Regions from separate parts of the Homo sapiens genome. Here region 2 is linked to region 1. Evidence: fine-mapped expression QTL. A gene starts in region 1. The other region holds a variant in brackets. All regions are shown on one strand. Distances are from middle to middle. Region 1 holds the start of ZIK1 (zinc finger protein interacting with K protein 1). Region 2 overlaps ZNF550 (zinc finger protein 550).

Region 1 (5,377 bases):
GACCACTGGCAGCCTCCCTCATCTCTGGCTGGGCTTCTCCCTGAAGGACTGGGCCTCAGGAGTAGGTGGGTCATTTGTCCCCTGGGCATGCCACACAGAGCAGGTTTTCCGAACTAGGCTATCCCTCCTCCCCAAGTTATCCAGGCAATTCCGCTAGTTCTATGCCTAGATGGACACACATGCTTGAAGTTTGGGGAGCCATGTTTGATGTGATGTGGCAACTCTGAAAGGACAGTGAGGGTGAGGGCAGGTGTTAGGTGGCCATTGTGGGGGCTGCTGGCCTCTGGGACCAGAGGGTAATGAGGTGCACAACCGTGTCACCTAGAGGGTGCCAGTGTTAATAAGGAAAAGGGTTGCTGTCCGACGCACACAGAAGCCAATGCCATGGCACCAGGTTTTTGAGAAAAGCAAACCTTTATTGCAAGTCGACAAACAAGAAGACAGGAGTCCAGCTCAAATCTGTCTCCCCAATATGGGGTTTGGGGCAGCTTTTAAGGATTAGGAAGGACAGGTTGGTAAGCACTGGAAGGGTGGATTTTGATTGGAAGGACTTCAAACAAATCTATTGATGGCAAGGCGGGGATGGGGTTGTTATCACCCAACATTCAGAGACAACAGACCCCTTGCTTTCGGAAGTGTTTCAGCACTTGGGTTCCAGCCATAGCCTGATATTTTGGTTTCCTGTGGTGACAGGGTGGAGTCTGGTAGGTGAGACTTCAGCTCCGAGTGTTGGGTCAATGTTTTCTTTTCTCTTTTCTTTTTATTTATTTATTTATTTACTTATTTATTTATTGAGACAGGGTCTGGCTCCGTTGCCCAGGCTGGAGTGCAGTGGCATAATCATAACTCACTGTAACCGTGATCTCCTGGGCTCAAGCGATACTCCCACCTCAGCATCCTGAGTAGCTAGGATTACAGGTGCACCACCATACTCGGGTAATTTTTTAGTTTTTGTAGAGACGGGGTCTGGCTATGTTGCCCAAGTGGTCCTTCCACCTCAGCCTCCCAATGTGCTTGGATTACAGGTGTGAGCCACCGCGCTGGGCCTGACATTTTCTTTTCTGCACATTCTCTAGCTGTGTAACTTGCAACTCTTTAGCTCTGTGCCTGCAAAATAACTGGACATTATGTTACCAACAGAGGATGGCCAGATGAGACTGGTCCAGTGGTTAAACCTGCACCTTCATGGAGGCCATTATGAGTATCCCTACAGGCCGAGTCTCAGGGTGCCCCCAGAAGCCCATACCAGCCGCTGTAAGGCAGAGCATGGACTTCCCCTCGGGGACTAAATCCCATTCTTGGGCTCCAGAGGCCTTGTTCCTACCACTGTACGCCACCGCTTGGGGTGCCCTGGGAACCCGCCTACCTCCCTACTGCCCTGAGGGCGGTTGGAGATGGTCCCAGCAGGTGTGGGAGATGAGGTAGGAGACGTCTTCAACGGGGTCCAAGGCTCATCTGGACCCAGTTCTCAGCCGAGGGGCGGTGGAGAGGGCGTCAGAAAACGCAGGAACGGCTCCTAGACCCAGGAGGGGACTCAGGGAAGCAGAGGCGCTTTCCTCGGCGGCTCTGGGGCCTTCCCAGCTCGCCCGGCCCCCCTGGAGGAGACGTCCCCCGGGGTGGAGCTACGGAGAACCCCTTCCCATGGGACGTCTCGGCCCCGCCTCCCGCCTCTGGGTACAGTCAAAGGGCTCAGGTCAGAGCAGGAGCAGCCGGGGGCGCGGCCCCCACGTGGCCTCCCGGGACACGTGCCCACAGCGCGACACCTAAGTCGCTCCTTTCACAGAATAGCCTTGGCCCCGGCACGGCCTCGAACGCCTTGACCCCGCAAGGGAGGGGCACGAGGCTCCTTTGCTCCCGCAGGAGCGTCGAATACGTATGGAATACGCGTCGGTGTGGATCTGGCCTCAGCTTCCTGAGCCTGAATCAATGCTTCTAATCACGTGGGCGCTCAGCCGCGACGGGACCACAGAAATCGACCAGCGGCCTGTTTAAGGAGCGACAAGGCCCAGCCCTCTCCTGCATTGTGGCGACGCCATTTCCCTGCGCCCCCAGCGCGGCCGCTTGGCTTTTGTTTGAGGTGACGCTGGGCGGCAGCATCCTTCCCTCAGCCCTGGGGACCAGCGGGGACTACAGAACCCAGAAGGTTTTGTCTCCAGCCGCAGGGATGCTGAGCCAATCCGCGCTGAGAAAAGGGTCGTTTCCGCTTTGGGACCAATGGGTCGGGGAGGGACTTCCGGTATCACTTCAGTGGCGGTCATTTTTGCAGCGCTTGGGTGCATCCAGACCGTCAGAGCTTTGGGAGCGCTTTGTTTGGCGACAGTCGGAAGGCGCGAGGGGAGGGGTCCTCCCGCTGAACAGTGGGGGTTCTAAGGGTCGGCGGCGGCGGGGTTGACGGCTTTGCCTAGGTCCCTCCGCCCGTAGCTGTCGGGTCCCGGCCCCGCTCTGCCCACAGACTCCGATGGCTGCGGCCGCGCTGAGGGCCCCGACTCAGGTGAGCGCTGCCTCTACTGGGCCTCACCCTCCATCCCCAAATTAGTGCCTTCTTGGGTCACTACGGTCGAGATCCTCATGTCCAGTACAGTGGGGGCTCGTGGGTGGGGTCCCTATTTCCAGAACTTGGGTGATGGGGCACGGAAGAGGGTTACAGGCAAAGGGACCAGCGTTTCTAAACTCTTGGAGACACAGTGAAGAAGGTTCATACCTGGAGTGCCAAGGTGAGGAGTTTTCCCTCAATTCTTAGGATGCTAGGAGCCGTGGAGGGTTGTGTACAGAAGCGGCATATGGTCTGAGTTAGGTCTTTCGAAGTTTTCCAAAAACCTCATGGAGTTAGACTAGAATAGAATGGAATAACACAGAGGCACAGGGAGGTTGAGTTCTTGTGCAAGGTCCCACAGTTGCTAAGAGTTGGCACTGAGGACTGGAACGCTGAGGCTCAGAAATAATGCAGGCATCCTCAGTCCACCTGGCTCTGGCCTGGACAGGAATCCAGGGAAGCCTGAATCCGTAGAGCCCTGTATGGTCACCTGCCTTTCATGATCTTTGGCTTTCCACAGGTTACTGTGTCTCCAGAAACACATATGGACCTCACAAAGGTGAGTGGAGGGTGTCCCAGGCCCTCACTGGTCCTGGCCCCATCCTGGGGTTTTTTCATGGATCTTTTTGCCACCATCCAGTTCTTTGACCTAAGGACTCTTCACAAACTGGAAGCTTGACATCCTGATTCTAGACTGGTGGTTATTTGTAGACGTTCTTATTGCTGGCAGACAATGGAATGAGGTGTGAAAGGTTGCCCCGCCTACGTACAATAATGTGTAAGGTTGGCAGTGAAGCTGAGCTGATTCAGGGAAACACAACTCTCCTTTCTTTCTCATGGGAACTCAGAGCAGCAGGGCAGGACTCAGGCCTGGAATGGCTCTGAGAAATTGGGTGTTTTTTCTGGAGGTGATGAGAACAATGGGAGGTTTAGAGAAGAGAACGGAGGTTATCTGACACTGGTCTCATCAGGTTCACTGTTAATGCAGCATAGAGAATACTCTGTGGGTGTGATGGAGGCGATAGAAAGACCAGGGAGGAGGCTACTGCAGTGGCCAAGGTGAGTTTTGATAGTGGCTTCACCAGTGTGGTGGCTGTGAAGGTAGAAGAAGTGGCTGGATTCTGGGTCAGAATTTTAATTAGGCCTGCTTGCATTTTCAGATTTTGAGGGTAAGAGATACTGGTCAAGCATTACTCCAGGCATTTTGAATTTAGCATCTGGAAGGATGGAATCTCCATCAAATAGCATGTTATAGGATTGATTTTATTTTTATTTTATTTATTTATTTGTCTATTTTTAGACAGTCTCACTCTGTCACTCAGGCTGGAGTGCAGTGGCTCGATCTTGGCTCTTTGCAACCTCCACCTCCCGGGTTCAAGCAATCCTCCTGCCTCAGCCTCCTGAGTAGTTGGGACTACAGGCACATGCTACCGTGCTACCATGCCCAGCGAATTTTTTTTTTTTTTTTTTTTTGTATCTTTAGTAGAGACAGGGTTTCACCATGTTGGCCAGGCTGGTCTCAAACTCCTGACCTCAGGTGATCCACCTGTCTTGGCCTCCCAAAGTGCTGGGATTACAGGCGTGAGCCACCATGCCCAGCCAATTAATTTTCATTAAGGATAACAGGAGTTTTGTCTTTAGCTATTATCATAGTCTGAGATATTCCAAAGAATGATATATGGAGACATCAGGTGAGTAGCTGTCCATGTACATCTAGAATTCTGGAAGTGGTTTAAGATGGAGAAATCCAAAAGGTGGTGGCCAGTGTTTGGCCCAGAGTAGCTATGGGTCACAATTAGGAGTGGGTAATCCTGGTCTTGAAGATAATGCTATTTATAATGCAGGAAAGGGCTGGGTGTGGTGGCTCACACCTGTAATCCCAGCACTTTGGGCGGCCGAGGCAGGCGGATCACTTGAGGTCAGGAGTTCTAGACCAGCTTGGCCAACATGGTGAAACTCCGTCTCCACTAAAAATACAAAAATTAGCCAGGCGTGGTGGCAGGCACCTGTAATCCCAGCTACTAGGGAGGCTGAGGCAGGAGAATTGCTTGAGCCCAGGAGGCGGAGGTTGCAGTGAGCCAAGATCACGCCACTGCACTCCAGCCTGGGTGACAGAGTGAGACTCCATCTCAAAAACAAAACAAAAAAACAGAAAAGGGAAGGTTGGGGCTATGACTGTGTCTCATGCTTGGACACGTGGTAGAGGTGGTGAGCATCACAAACAGTTGTGAGAGAAAAGTGGTCATGGGAAGATTGTAGGAAAGAGGATGATCTGGTGTATCAGTCCATTTTCACACTGCTGATAAAGACAGCAAGTCTCTAGGAAGTTCCAGACTTTCCCATATTTTCCTGTCTTCTTCTGAGCCCTCCAAACTGTTCCAACCTCTGCCTGTTCCCCAATTCCAAAATTGCTTCCACATTTTCAGTTATCTTTACAGCACAGCCCCACTTTACTCATACTGATTTACTGTATTAGTCCATTTTCATGCTGCTGATAAAGATGTGCTGGAGACTAGATAATTTGTAAGGAAAAAGAGGTTTAATGGACTCATGATTCCGCGTGGCTGGGGAGGCCTCACAATCATGGTGGAGGGTGAAAGGCATGTCTTGCATGGCAGCAGACAAGAGAGAACTTGTTCAGGGGAACTCCCCCCTTATAAAACCATCAAATCTTGTGAGACTTATTTACTATCATGAGAACAGCATGGGAAAGGCCTGCCCCTATGGTTCGATTACCTCTCACCAGGTCCCTCCCATGACATGGGAATTGTGGGAACTACAATTCAAGAAGAGATTTGGGTGGGGACGCAGCCAAATCATATCATCTGATAAGTGGTCAAGGCT
Region 2 (5,377 bases), 39 kb before region 1:
ATCAAGGATGAAAGCTTCATGATGTAAAATATTACATGGCAGTTAAAAACAATTGGCTAGAGGTAAGCCCATGAAATATAGGATAGAAATATAATATTTTGCTGTAGTTTGAGTGAAAAAGAAAAAAAAAGAATTGTGAGGTCTACAATAAAACATAATTTAAAAATAATTTAATACCACAAAAACTCCAAAGAAAAAAAACCAAAACAACCCAGACACTTCTTACTAGAACATATGTTCCATGCTTCTATCTCGGCTTCTGGTAGCCCCGTGTGTTCCTTGGCTTGAAGATGTTCTTCCTGTGTCTTCACATCGTCTTCCCTCTGTACATCTGCCTCTGTGACCAAATTTCCCATTTTTCTAAGGACACAGTCATAGTCAATTAGGAACTAACCTAATGGATTAACTAACATGATTACCTGAGGTTCTGAGGGTAACGACTCCAACATCTTTTTTGGAGACACAAACACTTAACATTGCCCTATGAATTTCTGCAGTTCTTCAAAGGGCAGAGTGAATAATAACCACAGCAATTTCAAGACACACAGGCTTCCATTGTGAGATGGCTTGTTTAAAGAAACTATTAATTCCCTACACTCTTCTGATCACTCTGTTGTTCACATTCATTTTAGGATTTCTCTTCCAAATCACTTCTGGTGCTTTCCTTCTTGCTTCTTTCATTTCCTTCGGTGTTGTAGTTCTATTATGTTTTTATTCCGTCAGCAATTTCTTAAATTTCTCTTTTCAACCTTAAGCAGTTTTTCTGAAATTATAAAATTTACTGTGAACATTTCAAACATTTCCACATGTGCATGAAGTTAAAGTGAACTCTGACATTCCCCTCTACCCCATCCCTTCCCTCCCTCTACACCCAAGGAGCAAATACCATTTAACTGGGTGAGGATCCTTCCAGACACATTTTTTGTCTGCTTACAAATATTAAGATTTCTAATTCGTCTTTGCATGACCGACTTGCCGAGTTAATTTACCGTCCACATTTCCTCTGTGACATTTACTGATTGAAGTGCACCAACTGTGAATGGTCATAACTAGTCCCACCCCCACAATCATTTCTCACAGATTAAGCAGCATAAGAGCATAGTGCTTTTTATCTAATTTGTTCATTAAATGTAACAAAGTTACAAAAACATGAACATGAAAACGTTTTACCTCTGCCGGGCACGGTGGCTCACGCCTGTAATCGCAGCACTTTGGGAGGCAGAGGCGGGTGGACTACATGAGGTCAAGAGTTCAAGACCAGCCTGGCCAACATGGTGAAACCCCGTCTCTACTAAAAATACAAAAAAACTAGCCGGGCATGGTGGTGGGCGCCTGTAATCCCAGCTACTCGGGAGGCTGAGGCAGGAGAATCCCTTGAACTCGGGAGGCAGAAGTTGCAGTGAGCTGAGATGGCGCCACTGCACTCCAGCCTGGGCAACAAGAGTGAAACTCTGTCTCAAAAACAAAACAAAAAACATGTTTTACCTCAATCATAAACTGTGGAAAACATACAGAAGTTCACAACTTTTACTGTAAGTTCAAAACTTCTACTGACTTAAAAACGGGTGCTAAACAAGTTTAAGTCAATATATTGCACCTGTTCTCATGTGTTTTTCCTATATTAGACAGTAAGTTCCTTCCCTGCTCAAGGGCAGGACCCATAGCCCAGCCATCCACTGCATCCCACTCTTCTAAGTATGACCACAACAGTGAGTGGCCATGGAGCTAAATGACAGGTGTCTCATGAGATTCTTGCCTATCACAGCAGCAAGTTCATAGTAGATCCTTGTACCAAACACTTCAGTGAAGACTGTATGGAAAGAGCTGGAAGCTAAGAAAAACCTAGGGTGTCCTTTATCCCATGGAAAACACTCCTGCTTTGGGACAAACTGGGGCCTAGGTCCTCAGGCCTGGAAAGAACCCTTTGATGACAGCCAATATGTTTCTAGAGGGGTTTCTCCAACTCTCTTGAACCCAGGGCCTTAGGTACAAGTACAGCCACAGCTACAATACATGCAGCCTTCCAGAGAGAGGATGCAGGAGGGTGGGGGTCCTCAAGAGTCAACTCTCCTTCCCACAGGAGAGGAAACTGTGCACTCTGTCCTGAAAAAACAAAAACAGAGAACTCTTAACTCACCAAGAATTCTATTTATAATATGTGCAAAAGGACCACAGTAAAAGGTACATGCCCACTATGAAAACATGAATATATATGCAGTGCTTTAAAAGGTTGTGAGGAAAGCTCAAAGTGAGAAAATGATAATTTTCTATTTTTCACACGTTTTAACCTAACATTATCTCATGTAGCTTGAAAACTAAAAGAAAATCTCACAAAAGGAATTTCAAATTACCAGATTCAGGCTAAGTACAGTGGCTCACACCTGTAATCCCAGCTTTTTGGCAGGCTGAGGTGGGTGGATCACCTGAGGTCAGGAGTTCGAGACCAGCCTGGGCAACATGGCAAAACCCTGTCTCTACTAAAAATACAAAAATTAGCTGGGCATGGTAGTACATGCCTGTAATCCCAGCTTCTTGGGAGGCTGAGGCAGGAGAATCGCTTGAACCCGGGAGGCAGAGGTTGCAATGAGCCAAGATCGCACTCCTGCACTCCAGCCTAGGCAGCGGAGTGAGACTCCATCTCAAAACACAACAAAACTAATTACCATATTCAGTGCTAGCACCAAGGGACTAAGGTCATGGTGGTTAACTATGAAACTCACGTAAACCTGCCCACGTATATCCTGATTCACCTGTTAAAATGCTAGGCACTTTATTTTGTAGCAAAACTTCACGCAAATGTTTATAAGATCAGACAATGAGATTCCTCTCCATGTTGTTTTCTTGGGTTTACTGGGTTTACCATGGATTCATCTTAGTTGTGTGTTTTATTTTGCCTGTTTTAGCTATAATTCAATCCCTAGAAAAATGCTGAGGGGGACCTAAAAATACCCCTCTACACAGGATTAAAGAATCTGATAAACACCAGAAAGAATTAGGACTCATCTGAGAAGGCCAAGCAAGTACAAAGTGATCACTATGTTGCCAGAGAAAATAAAGACAACAAACAGACAGAATGGAATCAGGAAAATGTGAGAGTGCTGAGCATTTGAAACCATATTAGGCTAGGTGTGGTGGCTCACACCTGTAATCCCAACACTTTAGGAGGCTAAGCA[GGAT/G]GATGACTTGAGTCTAGCAGTTTGAGACAAATCTGGGGAACACAGCAAGACCTCATCTATACAAAAAAATTTAAGGCTGGGTGCAGTGACTCACACCTGTAATCCCAGAACTTTGGGAGGCCAAGGCAGGTGGACCACTTGAAGCCAGGAGTTCCAGACCAGCCCAGCCAACATGGTAAAACCTTGTCTCTACTAAAATTACAAACATTAGCCAGGCGTAGTGGTGTATGCCTGTATCCCAAGCTACTCAGAAACTTGAGGCAAGAGGACCATTTGAGCCCAGGAGTTCGAGGTTACAGGGAACTATGATCATGCCACTGCACTCTAGCCTGGGTGACAGAGCAAGTCCCTGTCTCTTAAAAAATAATGAGTTTATTAATAAAAATCAAAGCCTTAAACAGTCTTAGGTATTGCACATTTTAATGTGGTGCACATTTTAATGTGGCCATCTGTACATGGGTTCTTCTCACCCTAGATATAAAAAAGAAGTGTCACATGAAGATGTTCTCAGTATTCTAATTTCTACTAAATTCAAGAATCTCATGACACAAGCCTTCATATTTCTCACAAAGAATTACTCTCCTCATGGATATCCTCCCAGAGATGTCTGGATCAAAGGCAACTTCCAAGAAATGCCTGAAGAGCTGCCCTCACTGTCTAACTCTGACAAAGGATGGCAGTGAATGTATGTTAAAAAAAAAAAAAAGGAATAAAACCCCTTTACCTCTCAAACATTCCCCTACCAAAAAATAAAACTGATCTTACAGGGAAGTCTGTAAGGACATAAAGCAAGAAGATACCTGTAACTGAAGGTTTTCATAAGTTCATAGAGAAAATCCCAAGGTGGGTCAAATTCCAGCATGGCTCTTTATAGGACAAGCAAGTGACAACCTGGTCACAAAGTTTTCTCACATCAATAACAATTATGTAGTAACTTTTCATTATGATTCTCAGATAGTAAGATTTCTGCTCTGGCCAAAGACTGTCCTTAATAGTTATATTTGGAATGTCTTTCTCCAGCATGAGTTCTCTGATGTTGATGGAATGCCTTCCACATTTCCCCCTGGTATGAATCCTTCTGCAATGAGTGAGAACTGAGTGGTGACTGAAGGGATCCTTACATTCACTGTATTCACAGGGCTTCTCTCCAAAGTGACTGCTCATGTGTTAGTTAAGAAAGAGCTGACAAAAAAAATGAAAAGTTTCCTGACATTCTTTGCATTCGAAGGACTTCTTCCTACAGTGTGGGTCCCATTATGAATGATAAAATAACAGTGGGTAAAGGCCTTGCTGTATTCATTGCAGCAATAGGGTTCTCTCATGTATGGACCCTTTGGTGCTGCAGAAGGTGTGACCTGCGTTTGAAGGCCTTCCCACACTCGATACACTTGTAGGGCATCTCCCCAGTGTGGATGACAGAGTGCTGAATGAGGTACGTGCTCCGGTGAAAGGCTTTCCCACACTGGGTGCATTCATAGGGCTTCTCCCCAGTGTGAATCCGCTGGTGCTGTATGAGTTCTGAGCTGCATCTGAAGGCCTTTCCACATGCCATGCAATCATAGGGCTTCTCTCCAGTGTGGATGATGTAATGTTGAATTAGGTGGGCTCTATTGCTAAAGGCTTTCTCACATTCTTTGCACTCAAAGGGCTTTTCTCCAGTGTGGGTCCTATTATGGCGAATAAAAGTAGACCGGTGGGTGAAGGCCTTTCGACATTGACTACACTCATAGGGTTTCTCTCCAGTGTGGATTGGATGGTGCTGCATGAGGTACGACCTGCGTTTGAAGGCCTTCCCACACTCAAGGCACTTGTATGGTTTCTCCCCGGTGTGGATGAGGTAGTGCCGAATGAGAGTTGAGCTCTGGCTAAAGGCTTTCCCACATGCATTGCATTCATAGGGTTTCATTCCAGTGTGAACCCTCTGATGTCGAACGAGATACCACTTCCTGTTAAAACCTTTCCCACACTGCTTGCATTTGTAGGGGTTTGTCCCTGCATGAATCAAGGCGTCTTTCCCTGGTTGCTGTGAGTCACATTCATGGAGAACATCTGCTGATAACCACTCTTGTAATGCCCTGGAGTGCAGACCATCATCTGTCCCCAAACCTTCACCTTCAAGGCTCACTTTCCCAAGATGGGTCTCCTTGTGGAGGTCTGTCTCCGGTGTCACTTTACCTTTCTGCATTTCCAAAAGCCCTTCC

The links. PIP is the estimated chance that this variant, and not a neighbour inherited with it, causes the effect.
Region 2: its variant is fine-mapped to the expression of ZIK1 in blood mononuclear cells (TOPMed, PIP 0.99).

Annotation. Positions count from the first base shown.
Region 1 is chr19:57,581,899-57,587,275 of GRCh38, forward strand. It overlaps ZIK1 (zinc finger protein interacting with K protein 1), which reads left to right and starts at 2,247. Exons shown (of 4, transcript NM_001010879.4): 1 at 2,247-2,491; 2 at 3,054-3,092. The coding sequence starts at 2,459. RefSeq lists enhancers at 1,756-2,287, 1,984-2,083.
Region 2 is chr19:57,542,481-57,547,857 of GRCh38, forward strand. It overlaps ZNF550 (zinc finger protein 550), which reads right to left. Exons shown (of 4, transcript NM_001397372.1): 4 at 1-5,377. The coding sequence ends at 4,495. Among named protein-coding and RNA genes, the nearest start is that of ZNF550, 15 kb to the right of the region's middle. The variant GGAT/G (reference allele first, on the strand shown) is at 3,174.